2 separate regions of the Homo sapiens genome follow, and region 2 is linked to region 1. The links come from fine-mapping of genetic effects on gene expression. Tissue or cell type: whole blood. Region 1 holds a variant in brackets; the other region holds the start of a gene. All regions are shown on one strand. Distances are from middle to middle.

Region 1 (2,756 bases):
AGAGATGGGGTTTCACCATGTTGGTCAGGCTGGTCTCGATGGTCTCGAACTCCTCACCTCAGGTGATCCACCCGCCTCAGCCTCCCAAAGTGCTGCGATTACAGGCATGAGCCACCACGCCCACCCAACTGGCCATTATTAAGCAACTGGAAACCTGGGCTGGTCTCAGGCAAAACAGTGCAATAGCGTGAGTGTTTTCGATTACCTGTTTCCACATTCAACTCTTTAACCCTGTGACTCCCCACTATGTGCCAGGTCCAGGCTGGTGCTGGGAATACTTTAGTGAGTAAGGTAAATTTGGTCTCTTCCCTCACATAATATTGGCAACAATTTTGAGGTCTGACAGTTTCAAATTTGGAGAGGATGTGGAGCAACAGGAACAGTGTAGCAGTAGCTGGTAAATGGGAGGCTCACATACAGTTCTCCTCCCAGGCTTTCTACTCAGACATGTGCCTAAGGAGACAGGAACACAGCAGAATGTGCACATGAAACTGCAAACAATCCAAATGTCCATCAACGAGTAATGCACAAATATATATGGCAGAGCCGTACAAAGGAATGTTATGCAGTAGTAAAGACGAAGCCAAAAAAGCTGGATGTGTGAATATGGATGAATCTCACAGTTAGTATATTGAAGTCCCTTCCTTCCCAAAGTGAGTTTCAGAGCCCATAAATATAATACCATTTATGTGAAGCTTGAAAACATGCGAAGCACTACCATACAGTATGTTGTTTAGAGATACATACATGTAGAGAACCGCATGCGCATGTTAAACACCAGATTCAGGAAATTAGTCACTTGGCAGTGGGGAAGGCAGTGTGTTCCAGGAAAAGGGATGAGGTTAGTGGAGGGTACGCAGAGGCTTCTGCTGTGTTGAACTTCTTAAGCAGGGTGATGGGTCGGGGAGTGTTCATTACACCATTGTATAGGTCTTACATATTTCATAATATACTAAAAATATATAAAATATCATGGGATTATGGCTATGAGAAGGAGAGCAAAGAGAGCTAAGGGCACCCATAGCAGAAGCAGATAGAATCAAGGAAGACTTTTTAGATTAAGTGACATTTAAGACACAGTAGGAGTTAAACTGAGAGAGAGAGGAGGAAGTTCATTCCAGGAAGAGGGAAGAGGATGTCAGGAGGCCCAGAGGTAAGAGAAAGCTTGGCAGAGGAATTGAAAGAAATGTCATAGAGTTGAAGTATATAGAGTGCATCAGGAATTT[G/A]TACCCTATCCTAAGGGCCACAGGGAGTCAGTCCCAGGGGTTTTAATTTGAAGCAAGGGAGTGCCATGGTCAGACGTCTATTCTGGAGGATCTGTCCGCTGGGCTGCAGCATGCAGAGGGCTTGGAGGATGTGGGACTGGCTTCAGGGAGACAAGTTTGGGGGCTGGTTCATAGATGGTGTGGTGGTGAGTGTAGGGAGAGCCCGTGGACAGGGTGGATAGAGTGAACACGTATTTAGGAGATAAAACAGACATGACCAGGTTGGCTGTCTCCAGGGTTCTCCGGCCCTCCTTGTTTCCATAAAAACCATTTACATGCAGCATCTTATAGTAGACATTTCTGGAAAAACAGGTAGACTAGACTGGGTGGATGTCTGAGTTCTGAAGAATATCTGTGTCTACTGAGTTATTTGACAGCTTTAGAGTTTGGCAGACCTGATTTCAGCCCTGCCACTCGCTGCTTCGTAATACTGGGCTTGGCACTCTCCAAGCCCCAGTTTCATCATCTCTTAAACAGAAAAAACATTTCCTCTTATTGATGAAAATAAATCATGAATATAAAGCACGTAGTTCAATTCCTGGAAGGTAGTAAGCAACCAATAAATGTTACCCCTCCCTGACTAGGCGCAGTGGCTCATGCCTGTAATCCCAGCCCTTTTTGAGGCCGAGGTGGGTGGATCACTTGAGGTCAGGAGTTCGAGACCAGGCTGGCCAACATGGTGAAAACCTGTCTCTACTAAAAAAAAATACAGAAATTAGCTGGGTGTGGTGGTGCATGCCTGTAATCCTAGCTACTCGGGAGGCTGAGACAGGAGAATTGCTTGAACCCGGGAGGCAGAGGTTGTGGTGAGCCGAGGCCACGCCACTGCACTCCAGCCTGGGAGACAGAGCGAGACTCTGCCTCAAAAAAAAAAAGATGTTAGCCCTCCCCAACTTCACCTGCCACCCGTATCCCAGGTAGCTCTGCACAATGTGGAGGCATGCCTGCTTGTTTTCCTCACCTGTCTGCCTTCCTCTTCTTAGCTGTACTCCAGGTCCTTGACCTACCTGAGAGCTTCTTTTGTCTTTCTTCACTGAGCATTTTCAGGTCCAAGTTTCAGTTTGTGAATCACAAGCCTGAAAATTCCCAAAGACCCAGCAGAACATGAGACCTGCACATGGCACAAAGCCTGGTGGGCTGTGCTCCTGCCTGTGAACCTGGTTCCTGTTCCTTCACAGGTCCAAGTGGGTTCCCCGGGGCGACTACATCGCCTCCAACACGGACGAATGCACAGCCACACTGATGTACGCCGTCAACCTGAAGCAATCTGGCACCGTTAACTTCGAATACTACTATCCAGACTCCAGCATCATCTTTGAGTTTTTCGTAAGCCCCTGGCCAAGGTGGAGGGTGGGAGCTAAAAAGCCTCTCTGGGGTTCAGATCCGTTTGAGGAATCCATCATGAGTGTAGCCCTGCTTGGGGGAATCACTGTTGTTTTCTCTCTGGAGAGAGCTGTGGGCAAAATGAGCTGAGGCCCAGGAGGCAAGAAG
Region 2 (2,607 bases), 43 kb after region 1:
GTGGTGAGGGGCCCTGGGGGGTAAGTTCCTCAGACACCAAGCGATTCTCCAGTGGACATTGGCTAAGCATTCTATAATTCAATTCGATTCTGATTCTGACACTAGCTACCTGGAGGTAGTGTCAGATTCCATGGGGTAAGGGCTTGATCCCACTAGACTGCTCCTCTTCAGATGCCAATTGCAAGTAGTAGATTTCACCTATACTTCTTAGCAGCTATAAACTGGGGCTCCCACTACCCCCTCCTTTGGTCTGATTAATTTGCTGAGAAGGCTCACAGACCTCAAGGAAACATTTACCAGTTTATTATAAAGGATAGTACAAAGGGTACAAATGAACAGCCAGATGAAGAGATGGATAGGGCAAGGTGTCAGGGGTGCAGAGCTTCCATAACCTTTCTGGGCAAGACACCCTCCTGGCATCTCCACATGTTCAACAACCCTGAAGCTCATCAACTCTTGTTGTTCGAGCGTTTATAGAGTTTGATGTCCAGCTCCTCCCCTCCCCCTTTCCTGGAGGTTGAAGGGTGGGGATGAAAGTTCCAATCCTCCAATCACTTGGTCTCTCTGGTGACTGGCCCCATCCTAAGGTTATCTAGGGCCCCCATCCTAAATCACCTCCTTATTATAAACTCAGGTGTTATCAAAGAGACCCATTACGTATAACCCAGGAAATTCAAGGGTTTTAGGGGCTGTGTCAGGAACCAGGGACAAAGCCCAAATATATTTCATATTATAAATAAATAATATGATAGTTAGCTATGTCACACCCTCATCTCAGGAGTCCATGACGGCGGTATAAGATCAAGAAGGTCTTAGCACATCTAGCTTCGAGAAGGCATTGGAAGTGAGGCTTTAAAGTTTCTGCAGAGTGGAAGGATTGGGGGTGGGGGTGGGGGAGGAGATCACCTGTTCCCAAATCCTTCAAATAATCTCTTGTTATCAGGGAGATTCTTTGATAACTTTGGCTTCACTCGGCAACTAGAATATTTCATTTAAAGGTCTGAACATTATAAAATCAAAGTATGATACAAACCGTTCTTCAAGACGCTTTCAAATTGACCCAAGACATGACCTCAACACCTTATACGGCGTTCAAATCTGCTTAATGTCCCTTTGGAAAAGTTTTCTCTCGTCTCTCTCTAAAAGACAACCGCACTTTCCCAAAGCTGTGCTCTTAAGAGTTGGTAAAGTGACAATTTGGTTTATCCAATAATCAGATTAATAAAGGTATACCATTTCTAAGGCACGAGAGCAGGAATCTTAAGCTGAGGTAGCCCTGGGACTAAATATGCCATCCTCTTGTATCAAGATGGAGAAGACGGCCGAGGTTCAGGGAAAGAGCCCAGTGGAAGAACCCAACCTAGTGAGAGGAAAACGGGCACCTGGTGAAGGCCCCGGCCTCTAAGCTAGGGATGAGGGGACAGGCCTCTGCCTAGCCTGAGACAGGAGTAGGAAACTGAGGCATTCACACTTTTATGTGGCGATCACAGTTCCTGCAGACTGTAGCAGAGCTGGGGAGCAGGAACCAGAGGTATAGTCCCACGCCCACCCACTCTCCCCTCCCCTCCCTCCGCGGCCCCGCCTCCAACCAGCCGCTTCCGGTCGCGGGGAGGGTCGCCTGCGGGCTCCAGCTGCGCCTGCGCAGGAAGGGCGGGTCAGCGCGCCGGCGCAGTGCGGCGGTCACAGGCTGAGTGCTGCGGCGCGATCCTTGCTTCCCTGAGCGTTGGCCCGGGAGGAAAGAAGATGGTGCTGGATCTGGATTTGTTTCGGGTGGATAAAGGAGGGGACCCAGCCCTCATCCGAGAGACGCAGGAGAAGCGCTTCAAGGACCCGGGACTAGTGGACCAGCTGGTGAAGGCAGACAGCGAGTGGCGACGATGTAAGTACCGGGACGGGCGGGTTACCTCCTTGATGCTAAACCCAATTTTCTCTCTCAAATCCAGCCACCGCTCCTGAGGCCACAGCTTCCACCCTTCGTCAGACCCCCTCCCAGGGTGCGGTGGCTCCGAGGTTCTCCCCATCCCCGAAAACACAGCCTGGTCGCCGGGGTCATCCCACTTTCTCCTCCACCCGGGCGGAGCGAGGTCCCTTCCACGCGTGCTCAGTGCCGTTCGCTGCCAGTGTGCGTACGCACGCGCATCGGGAGCTGTCAAGCCTTCCTGCCCCAGGGGTTGCCAGAACATGCCGGGGCGGGAGGTTGTGGGGTCTACGCGGCTTTCCTAACACGAATCTTTGGTCCCCCCCAGTCTTTTTCTCATCTTCAGCAAGGCCAGAGTGGTTTTCCTTTGTTTTGATAGGATCAAAGGCTTCTCCTGAGACTGCGTCACTTCTGCAACACAGTAGATTCATTCCTTCGGTATCGGAAGCATTTCGGGGCGTTGGAGGCCGCTCTTGGCCAAAATAAATGACCCTGAAGCTTTTCGGAAGGCCATCCCCCGACCTATGGGCATACCTTTAAGAATTAGAAAAGTCTTTTCCGTGGTAGATCAAACGCGAGGGGAGTGAGGAGGCGAGCAAAAGATTGTAATGACTGAAGCTGTTTAATTGTGATTTGTGGACGTTTTCCTTTAAAGACATTGGCAGAGTTGGGCTAGAACCTGGAACTGC

What was found. PIP is the estimated chance that this variant, and not a neighbour inherited with it, causes the effect.
Region 2: SARS1 starts here. The variant in region 1 is fine-mapped to the expression of SARS1 in whole blood (INTERVAL, PIP 0.95).

Annotation. Positions count from the first base shown.
Region 1 is chr1:109,169,423-109,172,178 of GRCh38, forward strand. ELAPOR1 (endosome-lysosome associated apoptosis and autophagy regulator 1) reads left to right here. Exons shown (of 22, transcript NM_020775.5): 4 at 2,444-2,591. Among named protein-coding and RNA genes, the nearest start is that of SARS1, 43 kb to the right of the region's middle. The variant G/A (reference allele first, on the strand shown) is at 1,227.
Region 2 is chr1:109,212,250-109,214,856 of GRCh38, forward strand. SARS1 (seryl-tRNA synthetase 1) reads left to right here and starts at 1,669. Exons shown (of 11, transcript NM_006513.4): 1 at 1,669-1,879. The coding sequence starts at 1,744. RefSeq lists a silencer at 1,463-1,682 and an enhancer at 1,733-2,092.